Regions from separate parts of the Homo sapiens genome. Here all the other regions are linked to region 2. Evidence: fine-mapped expression QTL. A gene starts in region 2. Each other region holds a variant in brackets. All regions are shown on one strand. Distances are between the middles of the regions.

What was found. PIP is the estimated chance that this variant, and not a neighbour inherited with it, causes the effect.
Region 1: its variant is fine-mapped to the expression of TRIM14 in whole blood (TOPMed, PIP above 0.99).
Region 3: its variant is fine-mapped to the expression of TRIM14 in whole blood (TOPMed, PIP above 0.99).

Annotation. Positions count from the first base shown.
Region 1 is chr9:98,090,036-98,095,259 of GRCh38, forward strand. TRIM14 (tripartite motif containing 14) reads right to left here. Exons shown (of 6, transcript NM_014788.4): 4 at 4,832-4,994; 5 at 1,874-1,966. Among named protein-coding and RNA genes, the nearest start is that of TRIM14, 27 kb to the right of the region's middle. RefSeq lists an enhancer at 617-1,176. The variant C/G (reference allele first, on the strand shown) is at 2,448.
Region 2 is chr9:98,116,320-98,121,543 of GRCh38, forward strand. It overlaps TRIM14 (tripartite motif containing 14), which reads right to left and starts at 2,903. Exons shown (of 6, transcript NM_014788.4): 1 at 2,663-2,903. The coding sequence starts at 2,869. CORO2A (coronin 2A) reads right to left here. Exons shown (of 12, transcript NM_052820.4): 12 at 4,656-5,224. RefSeq lists an enhancer at 2,377-2,426 and a silencer at 2,737-2,836.
Region 3 is chr9:98,055,023-98,060,205 of GRCh38, forward strand. NANS (N-acetylneuraminate synthase) reads left to right here and starts at 1,710. Exons shown (of 6, transcript NM_018946.4): 1 at 1,710-1,918. The coding sequence starts at 1,787. It also overlaps a transcript of TRIM14 not described here. RefSeq lists enhancers at 1,219-1,268, 2,309-2,428 and silencers at 1,459-1,808, 1,889-2,058. The variant G/A (reference allele first, on the strand shown) is at 2,636.

The DNA.
Region 1 (5,224 bases), 26 kb before region 2:
TCTGTTGGATATATGTCTAAGGTGGGAGAAAATGCTGCTCATTATAACCACTTCTATTCAACAATGTTCTAAATGTAGTAGACAGTAACTCAAGGCACGAAAAAGAAGTGAAAGGAAAGAATAAAGATCGGGGAAATGAAAGATTATTATTCATAGGTGACATGCTTATTTACACAAAAACCCAAATAATCTGTAGATAGCTTAGAAGTACTAAGTGAATTTATAACAGCCACTCAGTATGTCAATATACAAAAATGGATAAATCTCATATTGAGTGAAAGAAGCAAAACACAGAAGGGTATAGTGTGAATGATCTACTGAAAGTTCAAAAACAGGTAAAACTAACCTATAGTCCTAGAAGTCTGGAGAGTGGATCCCCTTTGGGGATAGTAAACAAGAAGGCACATGAGGAAGACTTCTGGGGAGTGGAAATTTCCATTTCTTGATCTGAAGGTGGTTACAAAATATGTTTCCTTTTTAAAAAATCATTGAGCTGATTGATCTGCACATTTTTGATTTGTGCACTTTTTTTTTTTTTTTTTTTTTTAAGACGGAGTCTTGCTCTGTTGCCAGGCTGGAGTGCAGTAGTGCGACCTCGGCTCACTGCAACCTTCGCCTCCCGGGTTCAAGCGATTCTCCTGCCTCAGTCTCCTGAGCAGCTAGGACTACTGGTGCATGCCACCATGCCCAGCTAATTTTTGTATTTTTAGTGGAGACAGGGTTTCACCATGTTGTGCAGGCTGGTCTCGAACTGCTGACCTCAAGTGATCCACCTGCCTTGGGTTCCCAAAGTGCTGGGATTACAGGTGTGAGCCACCGTGCTCGGCCTTTAAATCAGTATGTTAGCCTTTGTATGGAAAATGTAAATTTATTCAGTGCCTCTGTTTTGATATTCACTGTCCCCCTCCCAACACCAGGGGCAGTGATCACCATTCTTTGGTTTCCCTCTGTCTCCTGATGGTTACTTTGCACTTGAATAAACTCTGCTAACTGGATACTGAGCCTTCTTTAGATTGAGTCTTTTTTAGGTTGACACCCAGTAATTCCACTTGAGAAATTACTCCTAAAAAATAATCTGAAAATGAGGTATGGTGTGTTCATTCTCTCATTCATTAATTCAATTCAACAAATGTGTACAAGAATGGATGTTTATTACAGCATTGTTTTAGAAATGAAAATGTAAACATCCAACATTATGAGATTGGCTAAATATGACACATCCATTCAATGCAATGCCATGCAACCTCTAAAAACAATGATAAAAATAAAAAATTAGCTGGGCATGGTGGCACACACTGATAGTCCCAGCTATGAGGGAGGCTGAGGTGGGAAAATCATTTGTGCCCAAGAGGTCGAGGCTGCAGTGAGCCATGACTGCACCACTGCACTCCAGAGCAAGACTCGGTCACACACACACACACACATAGTGATAATATTAGCTGGGCACAGTGGCTCACTGTATAAATCCCAAATATATATATGTTCATAATATATCAGTAAATGAAAACAGATGACAAAACAGTATGTATAGTATGACACCACGTTTGTAACATAAAAAGATATATTAAATATATCATTATATGCATATTAGATGTGCTAAAAAAGCTAAAAGGACAAATAATAATAGCAGTTATTCACAGAAGAGGGATTATGAGTAACTTTTTTCTTTCATTTTCTAATTTTTCTACAATGAACATGTATTGTTTTATTGCCTTTAATAATAAACATTTTTTAAAAAACAAGTTCTTAAAATAAATAAATAAATAAATTCTAATGAGAAAAAAAGAGGGACCTCCATTTCCATGATCCTCCTCCACCCAACATCCCACCATCTCCACCGTCTCCACCCTATCCCCACTCCCGGGGGTCTTACATTTCAGCAATAGCGATCGCTCTGGTGAGGGGCTGGTTTTCAACAAGGTACCTGGCTTGGTGCTGGAAGGGTCTGAGAGCTGGCAGTTTATGCCTGTAAGGAATTGTTGAGAAATGAGCGCCCGGAGCTTATGCAAGCAGACAAATAAGACGTGCTAAAAATACCACACAACTGGAGATTCGCATAATCTCGCCCAAGAGCCAGGCAGATTTAAGGGATTTATGTGAATTCACAGGGACAGGAAAACCCCAGGATGACAAGGCTGGTGTGGGAGAGTCCTAAATAGGAGGAGGAGCTGAGGCGCGAACAACTACTGGATCCAACACTCAAGGATGGGCGGCGACTCAGGGAAGATGTGCAGATTCCAGGGTAAAGATGGAAAACAAGAAAGTAGAGCTGAGTCCTCAGGAAGGTCTGAGTGCTCAGAAAGAAAGAAGGAGGGGAGTCTATCCCAACAAGCGGGCACAGCAGGGGCACCCAGGGCCCTTGGCACTTGCTGTGCCCTCTGCCTGGACAGCCCCCCCACACCCTTCCCCCCTTGCCCAGGTTGCCTCCTTCCCAGCTATTGGGGCCG[C/G]AGCTCACTCAGCACCTCCGCAGAAGTGCCTTCCGCCCCCATCACTCCCAGCACTCATCACAGGGGCCTGTAGAGATCTGTGGGAAGCCCACCTGCAGGCTGTTTAAATCAAGTTTTGCCTAAAGCTCCTCCTTACATCTTTTAAGTTCGGCCTACATATTTTTCTGTACGTCATGAACAATAACAAGTGGAGGTGTAAACAGACCGTAGCCTGCACTTGTGCCAATCACCAAGTTTTGGCCAATCAGATGTAGCCAACTGTTCAAATTGTGTTCAAATTAGGCGAACGCCGAGCTGTAACCAATCCAGCTGCTTCTGTACCTCACTTCTGTTTTCTGTACGTCGCTTTCCTTTTTCTGTCCCTAAATCTTCTTCCACCACGTGGCTGTGCTGGAGTCTCTGAGTGCACTGTGGCTCAGAGGGCTGCCGGATTCATGAATCGTTCATTGCTCATTTAAACTCCTTTAAATTTAATTTGGCTGAAGTTGTTCTTTCATCAAGGCAAAAGCCTCTCCCCTCTCCCCAGAACTCTAGAATCATAGGTCCTACTGCCGAGGCGATACCACCACATGGGAAGTCCAACTTCTCAAATCTAACAGGTTCACTTCATTCCCTCCAGTCCTAAATACTCTTTCTCACTTCAGAAAATGACAGTTTCCTTCTGCGAGTTGCCCACGTCCAAATCCTTGGATTCTGATCTCTTTCCTCTCTCCCCTGTGACCCTACGTCCACTCCTGTTGTCCCCATTGCTGCTCCTTCGATATGGCCAGCTCACTCCCATCGCGCCTCAGGACCTCCACCCTTGCTTTTCCCTCTGTCTAGAATACCTCCCCCAGACGTAACAGCAGCAGCAATCATAATCGCCAAGACATACGTGGTGCTTAATATGCCTGAGCGCTATATGTGTAAGAGCTCATTTAATCCTCACAGCAGCCCAGGAGAGGCGACTGCATTATGGTCTCCACTTTACAGATGCAGAAACAGAGGCATGGAAAAGGGAGGAGCCGTGTCTAAGATGGCAGGGTTCAGCAGGGTTCCAAGTGGTAGACCTCGGATAGGAACCCAGGAGGCCTAGCTCCAGAGGCCGTGCCTATGACCACTGTGCTCTCTGGCCCTTCAGACCCACAGAACCTGCAGAATGAATGCTTCCTTTGGGCCACCTTGAGTGTCCCCTTCTCAGAGGCCATCCCAACTGCTTATATAAAACAGCTCCTCCTCCTTGTCACTTTCCTGTCTTCCATCCTGCCCTGGTTTATTATTATTATTATTATTGTTATTTTTGAGACAGAGTCTTGCTCTGTCACCCAGGTTGAAGTACAGTGGCATGATCTCAACTCACTGCAACCTCCACCTCCCGGGTTCAAGCAATTCTCCTGCCTCAGCTTCCCGAGTAGCTGGGATTACAGGTGCATGCCACCATGCCTGGCTAATTTTTGTATTTGTAGTAGAGATGGGGTTTCACCATGTTGGCCAGGCTGGTCTCAAACTCCTGACCTCATCATCCACCCACCTCGGCCTCCCAAAGTGCTGGGATTACAGGCGTGAGCCACCACGCCCGGCCTTTATTATTCTTTATAGCAGTATAGCAGTTCCTGTCACCTGACATGTTTGTGTACGGTCTGTCTTCCCCTACGAAGACTGTGAGCACCAAAAGAGGAGAAGGAGCTTTGTTTTGTGCCCTGCTATGCCTGGCATATAAGAGGGGCTTGATAAATGTTCTGAATGAATCATGATAGCAGAGGTGAATGAATGAATGAATGCATAAATGAATCAAAGAACAGATATTTTTGAGTACATGTTTTGTGCCAGGCCCTGGGGGGACCTCAGAGTTGGACCTAAAGCTGGTTTCTGCCCTTCACGTGCTTACAAGGGGCAAGGAGGGGGGTCCATGTATCCACTTCATGAGCACCCTCTAGCAGGACATGGGCAGGCCCTGGAGCGGGAAGGGAGAGGGGAGATGGCTAAAGGAGAGAGTGAGTCAGGGCTGGGCTGGCAGGAAAGGGCTTCCCAGGTGGGCGCAGCTGTGCCAGTCTGCCTCGAAGGGGTGCCAGGCCTTGGCCCCAGCCAGAGGAAGAGAAGGAGGAAGAGTTGGTCATTCCAGCTGGGAGCCCAGAGCAAGGCTGAGATGTGGCAGGCTCCCAGGAGCAATCTGAGGGGCAGAAGCAGGGCAGTGTGACTGGAGAAGGGCAGGTCTCAGTCTCAGGAAGGGTTGGAGGTGAAGTGGTGAGGGTGGGTTGGGCACCAGGCCCAGGAGCCCCTGACCGCCCAGCCAAGGGCCTCAGTGTGGGAGAGACAGGATGTAGGGAGATGATCTTTGCATTCGTCTCTGGGCTAAAGGACACTAGGGGAGTTAAGGACACAAAGTTGGTCACTCGGCGACTTACTTTCCTTAAGGCGAATGTCCAATGGCGTCTGTAATGTACTCTCCACGGCTTCCACGAGGCCCTTAAAGAAGCTCTTGACGGGCTCAAAGGAGAGGGGCACGGGATGGCACAGCTCCCCGAGGCTCATCTGCTGCTGCATCTCCTGCTCGGTGGCCGTGTATGCCTGTGTGGGCACACGGGGGTGAGGGTGGCTCTGGGAGATGCAGGCAGCATCCCAGCCTCCTGTGCTGCACCCAGGAACAAACCCACACCAGCATGCCCAGGCTCCACGTTGGCCTGGCACCTATGGTCAGCCCAGGCCATGCCTGCAGGAGCAGAGCCCTGGAGAGACCATACGGCATCCCTGAGGTGGGAGCCATGCGGAGGTGCGGTTTTTCAGTGCTGGCACTGGGG
Region 2 (5,224 bases):
AAATCCTTGGAAAGACTGGACTAGCTTGGTCCTTGTCTACACAGTTCCCTTACAAGGTTCCCGACCTTGTGGTAAGAAAAGAATGTCACTTTCCGACAGGTCTAGGAACCTCAAGATATTTTGGGACCTTGAGAAGAGAATAATTCACCCAATGTGTATGGGTATCACAGGCATAGTCTGATGGTGAATCCTTGGTTTGGCTTTTTAGCTGTAAGGCTTTTAAAAGTCAAATCCAGGCCAGGCGTGGTGTTTCACGCCTATAATCCCAGCACTTTGGAAGGCTGAGGCAAGAGGATCACTTGAGCCCAGGAATTCTAGACCAGCCTGGACAACATGGTGAAACCCCGTCTCTACAAAAAAAATACAAAAAAAAAATTAGCCAGGTGTGGTGGTGCATACCTATAGTCCCAGCTACTTGGGAGGCCAAGGTAGGAGGATTGCTTGACCCTGGGAGGTGGAGGTTGCAGTGAGCCACGATCATGCCATTGCACTCTAGTCTGGGTGACAGAGTGAGACCCTGTGTCTCAAAAAAAAAAAAAAAAAAGTCAAATCCAAAATTCCTTATGAAAGTTCCAATAATGCAAATTATCAGGCCAAGTGTAATATTAAAACTTACTTTGCAAGTAAATTTGTCCTATCAAGACTCATTTTTGGTAAAAACAGGGAACTAGAGAGAGAAAAATTATGTTTCAGAAGAAAATCTTAGCACACCTGTTATGCACACCTGTTATTCCTGTTATTAGATTCCAGCCCTGGCCATTGTTTTTTAGTTTTTATTTTCCTGCAATTTGGACTAAATCCTGAATTATTTCCTGGCTACAACAAGGAAGGTTGTAGAAAAAGTTTTAGAAGCCAATTCCTGGCTTTTAAAGAAGGCTTGGGATTTTCTTCGTGATGTTTTTAGTTGACTCCCCAGTGGAATAGGTTTGGTGTTGTTCTGCCATAGAGATTCTCTGTTTTATTTATTTATTTATTTATTTATTTATTTATTTATTTAAGACAAAGTCTCACTCTGTCATCCAGGCTGGAGTGCGGTGGCGTGATCTCGGCTCATTGCAACCTCCATCTCCCAGGTTCAAGCGATTCTCATGCCTCAGCCTCCTGAGTAGCTGGGATTACAGATGTGTACCACCACACCTGGCTGATTTTCATATTTTTTAATAGAGACGGGGTTTCCCCATGTTGGCCAGGCCTCAAACCCTTGGCCTCATGTGATCCTCCTGCCTCAGCCTCCCAAAGTGCTGGGATTACAGGCATGAGCCACTGTGCCCGACTGCTTATGTCATTTTAATGTAAATTCTTGGTAAACAATTTAGGAACTGCTTCTTCTTTTTTCCTTAAAAACTTATATGTAACTGCTGCTAATCAGAGTGGATAGTCACAGAAATTTGAATCTATGGTCCCAGTTGGCCATCCTCAAGCTTTAGGCTTGGATAAACTCTGTACTTAATCATATTTTCTGAATCTTATTACTTCAAGTTGACAGTAGGTAGTGGGTAGGGGGATGGACAAATGGATGGGTGAGACTCTTGAGCCAGATCTGTGGAAAGCAGCCTTGTTAATTCTGAATAACAGTTTTTCAAGGAGCCATTATTATAATTACAGCCATTTCATACGTTAAAAAAAGGAAGGGTCTGGTGGCAGGGACAGGTCTTGAGCCCACGACTCCACTGGATTGTCCCCCATGATCCCCTTTTCACCTTGGAGTTCCAAGGTTGTCACAGTGTGGTGGTCTGGAGTCATGCAGTACCGGAGAAAGGCTCACGATGGGGCTGAATTCATCACAGAAGACTTCTTGGAGACAAGTGGTAGGATCAACAGCTGTCAGACATGAGGGCCTACCTCACCCAGGCTTCATGAAACCCAGAGAGAGAGAAGGATTTGAGAGAAGCCACAGAAAAAGTCAGCTGGGAAGCTGGAGCAGGAGCCCAGAGCCCCTGGGGCACTGTTAGGATTATGCATGGGTAAGGGTTCCACGGTGACAATGGCCCTGTTGGGGGCATCTGGCTAATGGAGTCCTGGGTTCAAGGCCTGCCCCTGCCTCCAGAGCCTTCCTCTTGTGGCCTATAAAATGGCTGTAATAATAATGGCTCACCCAGGGCTGCTATGAGCAGGAATGGGAGTGTCTGTGTGGCCGGGGAGGGGAGAGGAGGTAGGTAGTGACAGCTGAGGCTGCTCCCAGGGCAGTCAGGCCGTCCTCAGCTCAAAGTTCACAGGCCCTTTCTGTGGACTGCAGATTAAGTAAACCTGAGATGTCTGTGTGGCTTTCTGAGCTACACAGGGCTGTTTATTAAGAGGGAGAGTTTGTACCTCTGTTAACTAAAAGGCAGACTGTCTTCCAGCCCAATGGCAGTGTGGCGGATCGGCCATGGTGGACACGGTCAAGGACATCTGGGTACCAGCCTGGGCTCCCAACCTCTCACTCCTAAACCCACCTTTTCTGAAGCTCAACTGATGGCTTTGGCTCGCCTTTGCCCTTCCTTGGGTCTCAGGCTCCCGCTCTGAACTTTCGGTCGACCGCTTAGACGCCCTCTGGGGCACCTTTGGTTTCCAGGTTGTAACCCGCCACTGGCCACGGCCAGGCACGCCCCCTCCTCGGCCGTTATGCCTGGGCTGGCTCCCCCAACTCCCGCGCGGCGAACCCCGTCCCCATCGTCCCCACCTGCACGTGCACCGCTGCCTCCAGCGCCAGGCCCACAGGGTGGCCACGGTGCGCGCCCAGCACCGGGCAAAGCGCGCACACGCAGCGGCGGCAGCGGCGACAGAAGAGCTCAGCCACGCGGTCGCCATGCTCCGGGCAGCGCCAGCCGCATCCCTCGACAAGCTCCGACCTCCCAGGGGTCCGGCTCCCGGTCGCCGCGCCCGCCATTCATCTCCACCTCCTCCGGCTCCCCGGGACACAGGGCGGGGCTCCCAAGGGAAACCGAAACCTCGGCCGTGGGCGGGGCGGCTCCAGGCCGGCCGGCCGACCCCTAGGAGGATGACAGCCCGCCGGGAGCAGCGTCGGGCCTCGGAGCATCCTCCGACCAGCAGGGTGCTCCCTCTGCCCGCCCAGGCCGGGAGGTGGTCCCACCAGAAATGGGAAGCTCCTAATGAGCCAGCTAGGAGAGGGTGGGCTTCCTGCTTAATGACGCTGTTCCAGTAACGCCCAGAAAACTGCAGCCCTGATGATGGGACCAAAGTTGGCTGTGACCTTCCGGGGGTGCTCCTCTCACTTTCCCTTGATCCTCTCTTGCCCTTTTCCCCGGAAAGATAATCATTCCCACAACTGTAAGATACCTTCATCAACCTCAAATAAGGACACAGAGATTCTCCAATTGAGTTTATTTCGGACTGAGCAGAAGGATTGCAATTCGGGAATAAATGTGCCATGGCACCCAAGGGGTGGGGACGCGGAGTACTCAGGGAGGCAAAGGAAAGCAGAGGCTTTTAAAGGCAAAACGAGGAGGATTGCATATACTGTTTTTTTTGTTTGTTTGTTTGTTTTTGTTTTTTTTTTTTTTTTTTTTTTTTGGAGACGGAGTCTCGGTCTGTCGCCCAGGCTGGAGTGCAGTGGCGCCATCTCTGCTCACTGCAAGCTCCGCCTCCCGGGTTCACGCCATTCTCCTGCTTCAGCCTCCCGAGTAGCTGGAACTACAGGCGCCCGCCACCACGCCCGGCTAATTTTTTGTATTTTTAGTAGAAAAGGGGTTTCACTGTTTTAGCCAGGATGGTCTCGATCTCCTGACCCCGTGATCTGCCCGCCTCGGCCTCCCAAAGTGCTGGGATTACAGGCGTGATCCACCGCGCCCGGCCAGATCGTTTTAAAATAATAATACTTGGTTACAAGAATTAATACAGGTGGCTTCAGTCCAAAAGTTGAACAGGCAGTTGCTGGGCAGATGTCCTCATATCATGGCTTTTGTGCAAGGTTGTGGTTCTTTGTGCAAGGTTGCAGTTTGGTGGAATCTTTTGCAATAATAGTTCCTGTTACCAGGCAAATCGTTGATGAGGGCCCCCCACTTCATGGCCTCCCAGCACCATTTAGTTTGTTTGAGACAGGATCTCGCTCTGTTGCCCAGGCTGGAGTGCAATAGTGCGATCATAGCTCACTGCAGCCTCTAACTCCTGGGCTCAAGTGATCTTCCCACCTCATCTCTGGAGTAGCTGGGACTACAGGAGCACCATTTAGTTTGGTTTTGATGTAAGTGACTCTGTTTTGGTACTGACAACTTTCACACACACACCACCACCCCAAATTCCAGTTGCCCCCCCAGGCTCAAGTCTAGACTTCCACTTATAAAGCCCTCAGCTCTTTCTTAAGATCCTTGGTCTCCGCCCTGCCTATGCTCCACCCTGTGCTTTTTCAAGACTGGGGGACGTGCAGTTTACCCTGCTTGGAACATTCTTCTTCCCAAATGCCCTTTGCCCTGAGTATTCCAACTTACTCTGCAGGTTTCTACCTTACTATCTTTTCCTCCAGGAAGCCTTCCCTCCTTCTCCTTCCAGAACAGCCTATGCTTTCCCTATCCTGGCCCTCCCCATTCCCGCAGCCATGACTGAAAACTGGAGAGGGCAAAGACTGTCTGTTCTGCCTGTTTTCCAGCTTGGTGTCTGACTCCAAGAGTAGATAGTTAATTGGTATTTGTGGAACAAATCAAGAAAAGGAAAGCTCCTTGTAGTAAAATGGCCAGATGTTTATTATTTTGTTACATTATTTCCATTGCATATTCCACATCTATTTATTTTCACTTTTATTTATTATCATTATTTTTCACAAAGGTACAAGGAATTTCAGAAACAACATTAAAACAATCATTCAAACTGTTTCAGGCACGGTTTCAATTAAAAGCATAGATTTGATTTCTGACTTCCTGTTTCCTTCTATGATACAATCTCAAGTTTTGTTTCAGGAAGCACAATTATTGTAGCGTTAAGGTGGATACCTGCCAAAGCTCATCTCCTAGTGCTGTCCTCATTCTCAGAAAGTTCCTGAGTCAACAGAAAGGGGACGCCCAGGGTATGGAATAAGGAGATGAGAGCATGCTCTGCCAACTGGCTGGGACCTGAATGTGCTAGGCAAGTTCCACTACATCAGCTCAAGAACATAAACAAAAATGTAATTTAAAAAACAGATGGTTTAAAAAAATATCTGATAAAAATTACCTATCCCTCTCCCTTGCTGTGAAATAATTTAAATAATTTATTCTAGATGTAAAAATAATAATACAAAAAAGTTTGTTCA
Region 3 (5,183 bases), 61 kb before region 2:
GTTTGTTTGTTTTTGAAATGGAGTTTCGCTCTTGTTGCCCAGGCTGGAGTGCAATGGCACAATCTCAGCTCACTGCAACCTCCGCCTCCCAGGTTTAAGCGATTCTCCTACCTCAGCCTCCCAAGTAGTTGGGATTACAGGCATGCACCACCATACCTGGCTCATTTTGTATTTTTAGTAGAGACAGGGTTTCACCATGTTGGCAAGGCTGGTCTCGAACTCCTGACCTCAGGTGATCCACCCGCCTCAGCCTCCCAAAGTGCTAGGATTACAGGTGTGAGCCACTATGCCCCACCTTGGAGATCAGAGTTTTTAAGGATAATGTGGTGGGTTAAGAGAGGCCAGTATGCCAGGAGTGCTGATTGGTTGTGTTGGAGATAAAATCATAGAAAGTCAAGGCTGTCTTCTTGTGCCAAGTCAGTTCCTGGTTGGGGGACACAAGATCAGATGAACCAGTTTATCAATCTGGTGGTGCCAGCTGATCCATCAAGTGCAGGGTCTGCAAAATATCTCAAGCACTGGTCTTAGGTTTTACAATAGTGATGTTATCCCCAGGAGCAATTTGGGGAGGGTCAGAATCTTGTAGCCTCCAGGTGCATGACTCCTACGTGTCTAATCTTGTGGCTAATTTGTTAGTCCTACAAAGGCAGTCTAGTTCCCAGGAAAGAAGGAGGTTTATTTTGGGAAATAACTTATCTTATTTTTTAAATTAATTAATTAATTTATTTATTTTTGAGACAGAGTCTTGCAGTGTCACCAGGCTGGAGTGCAGTGGTGTGATCTGGGCTCACTGCAACCTCCACCTCCCGGGTTCAAGCGATTCTCCTGCCTCAGCCTCTCGAGTAGCTGGGATTACAGGCACGCACCACCACGCCCGGCTAATTTTTTTGTATTTTTAGTAGAGACGGGGTTTCTCCATATTGGTCAGGCTGGTCTCGAACTCCTGACCTCAGGTGATCTGCCTGCCTTGGCCTCCCAAAGTGCTGGGATTACAGGTGTGAGCCACCGCGCCCGCCCAGGTGATTGTATTTTAAGAGCCTGGGGCTGGGAGGTCCGGGTACTAGTCCCATCTCTGCTTTGGCTTTCTGGATGGCTTTGGACAAGCCAGTGCAACTTCTCGAACCTGTTGCCTCTCATATAATAGGAACCTCCGCCACTTCTTGAAAACTTACTACAAGCCAAGTATTGTGATCAGGGGTTTCTATACGTCATCTCACAGTTCTATTTTATTTTTTTGCTTCAGAGAGAAACAAAAATAACGCTCCGGAAGACTGAGTAACGTATATATGAGCAGGAGCTGGTGACTGGCATAGGCTGGACTCGATCCAGCTCTGTGATTCTAACTCTAGCAACCCTGTTTTTTCCATTACACCATAGGGCGCGCTCTCCCCATGCTCCTGAGAGCAGGACATAGACTATGCCCTGCGCAGGCAGCCGTCCGCCTCCTGCAGGGAATGCTTGCTCCTGGGTGCACGCACGGATACCGCGATGGTCCGAGACCACGCTCTGGGACAGCAAGCCTCAAGCCTCGCACAGGAGAGGGCCGCGGAGCTTCCTCGACCCGCCCCGCCGCCCTTCCCGCGGGAGGCCCCGCCCCCGCCCCCCGCCCCGATTGGCTGTCGGGAGAGAGGCGGGGCCTAGGGGATTGGCTGCCCGGCGACCGCGGGCTGACGTGGCGGGGCTGGCGTGTGGGTCTCGCAGCGTTGCTCACAGAACAGAGTAGAGGCGGCGGCGGCGGCGGCCGGACCCAGACTGGTAGTGAGGCTTTGGACCCCGAGCCGCTGCAATGCCGCTGGAGCTGGAGCTGTGTCCCGGGCGCTGGGTGGGCGGGCAACACCCGTGCTTCATCATTGCCGAGATCGGCCAGAACCACCAGGGCGACCTGGACGTAGCCAAGCGCATGATCCGCATGGCCAAGGTGAGGCGGCAGCTCCCGGGACCCGGGATTCGGGCGCCGGGAGGGGCGGGGCGGGGCCGCGGGGAGCCAGGGCCACACGGCCTCCGCGGCTGGGTACCCTGGTCCGGCCTCTTCCCGCCCGCCAGTTCCGTTTTCGGAATCCTTCGGATCCCTCTTCCTCACCGTGTCCGCCACCCTCGTGACCTTTCTGCATTACAGCAGCTGCCTCCTAACCCGACCTGTTTCCTCCCCGTTCTGGTGCCAGAATAATCTTTCTAAAAGTCAGACTTGATCAGACCATCCCCCCTGCCTGGCACCTTCTGTGGCTCCCTCCTGCCCGCGGGTAGAGTCGAAACCCTTTAACATAGCCTTCAAGATTTTAATGACTGGGCCCCTTCCAGCCCGTCATAATTCTTCTCTGACATTCTTCAGCGACACAGAGTTACTTTCAGGAATGACAGTTCCTGGAAGTTGCTGTGGTCTCTCTCACCCGCCATTCCCTGTATATGAAATATGAAGTGGTTAAAAGCCGGGCCTTTGAGTTCAAATCTCAGTTCCACCACTACTAGCTGTGTGAACATGGGCTGCTTACTTAGCCTCCGTGAACCCTTTTCCCCATTTGAAAACGGGGCTTGAAAACAACAGTTCTTTCCACATGGAGTTGTTATGGGGATCAAATGAGATTCTCAGATAGAGCTCTGAGCCCAGCACTTGGCACACATGAGTCGGTAAATGCGT[G/A]CTCCCTCTTCTGTTGGGACTGCCATATTCTTCATTACGACCCCAGCCCCCAGCATAAGGCCTGGCCTGCACTATGATTCTTTGGTTTAGAGATAGCTCACCCCATCTTTCCTTTCCCTTCATCAATGCTACTCAACTGATTTTGTATCATTTGTGATAGGTTTTTTAAATGTTTATTTATTTATTTATCTATGTTAGAGACAGGGTCTTGCTCTGTCACCCAGGCTGGAGGTTTTCTCTTACTGTTTTTTTTTTTTTTTCCTGGTTTTTTTTTTTTTTTTTTTTGAGACAGGGTCTCTGTATCACCCAGGCTGGAGTGCAGTGGCATGATCCCGGCTCACTGCAACCTCTGCCTCCCAGGCTTAAGTGATTCTCCCACCTCAGCCTCCCGAGTAGCTGGGACCCACAGGCGTGAACCACCATGCTGGGCTAATTTTTTTGTAGAGATGGGGTTTGGCCATGTTACCCAGGCTGGTCTCGAACTCCTGAGCTCAAGCAATCTGCCCACCTTGGCCTCCGAAAGTGCTGGGATTACAGGTGTGAGCCACCACCCTCGGCCCTTGCTGTTCCTTCGGGACTGGTTTTATGGAAACCTAATCACTGAATCATAAAAATACTTTACAAAAATAACATTGCTAACATTTTTTGAGTGCTTACTCTACCAGGTACTAAGCTAAATGCTGTACATGCACCATCTCATTTAATTTTTACAACAACCCAATGCCATGATGCTGCCGATTTCATTTTAAAGGCTAAGAGAAAATAAGTGACTTAGGCAAGGTCACATAGCTAGTATAATAAATACAGTAAGGGGTTTTTTCAGTTTTTGCTCCTAAGCCACAGGACTCCAGCCTTTCTTCTGCAACATTGTTTTCTAGAGGGAAATTCCCACTCTTAATTTGAAGGAGCAGTCTGTTTTTCCTCTTGGAATGCCGAAGTTGTAGAAATATCTAGAGATACTGAAGCCATAGAAACAAAGCTGTACTGACCAGGTGCAGTGGCTGATTCCTGTAATCCCATCACTTTGGGAGGCTGAGGAAGGCAGATTGCTTGAGCTCAGGAATTCGAGACCAGCCTGGGCCACATAGCGAGACCCTGTCTCTAATTCCATTGAGCTGGAATCTAGGTGGCTGCAGCCTTTAGGAAAGGGATCTGGCCAGCTCTGCTAGAGACACTGTGCAACTTTAGTCAGGTCAGTCTGGGCCTTGGGATCTTCATCTAGACAATGAGAGCTCTGTTGCCCAAGGTCACTTTCAGTTCTAATGTTCTTTGAACTTTCCAGCATCAAGTCCTGACTCTACCATCTTATGATTTGTCTAAGAGCAGGAGTAGTGATCTCAGCACTGACATTTCTGGACCCAAGAAGTTTTTATTTTTTTTTTTCAAGACGGAGTCTCGCTGTGTCACCCAGGCTGGAGTGCAGTGGCGTGATCTCGGCTTACTGCAAGCTCCGCCTCCTGGGTTCACACCGTTCTCCTGTCTCAGCCTCCCGAGTAGCTGGGATTACAGGTGCCCACCACCACACCTAGCTAATTTTTTGTATTTTTAGTAGAGACGGGGTTTCACCATGTTAGCCAGGATGGTCTCGATCTCCTGACCTCGTGATCTGCCCACCTCGGCCTCCCAGAGTGCTGGGATTACAGGTGTGAGCCACTGCGCCCGGCAGCCAAGAAGTTTTTAATAGCATGAATACCTCTGTGTCTACAGAAATGGCCGTGAGATGGGACTTTAGTGGGTTTTAATTACTCTTTTTCTTGAGTAGATTGTTTTTGTTTGAGTCAAGGTCTCACTCTGTTGCTCAGGCTGGAGTGCAGTGGCACCATCATAGCTCATTGCCACCTCAACCTCTGGGGATCAAGCGATCCTCCCCCCTCAGCCTCCTGAGTAGCTGGGACTACAAGCGTATGCCACCATGCCTGGCTAATTTTTATATTTTTTGTAGAGACAGGGTCTTACTATGTTGCCGAGGCTGGTCTTGAACTCCTTGGTTCAAGCAATCCTCCCACCTTGGCCTCTCAAAGTGTTTGGATTATAGGCATGGGCCACTGTGCCTGACCTCTTGAGTGTTTTTTGTTTTTTTTTTTTTATAGTCAAACAATCCGGCTTTTATATTATTGCCTCTGCTCAGTAGAAGTCATCTAGGGGCTGGGGCATTTTTGTTTTGTTTGTCTGCTTTTTAACATGTAACCTGTTCAAAGAAAATGTCATGGAGAAAAGCGCCAGTGCAAAGCAGCTAAAAGCAGAGTTGCTATTGTTGAAATCAGAGAAAGAGGCATAGGGCACTGTCCCTGGATGTTCCTGTCCCTGAGAGGGCCTCATTAGGACAGTTTACACATCCTGGAGGTAGCCCAAACTGCTTTTATATCGATGGAGAAACTGAGTCCAGAGCTGGGAAGTGACTTATCTAAGAGTTAGGGTCAAAGTTAAACCAGAATTTTTCTTTACTAAATTCTGGTCCAGTGCTGAGTTGACTATTCTTTGCTCAGTTATATAACTTAAAATCTTCCTTAACTCTTTGATCCAATGTTTTTAATATTTACAATGCAAA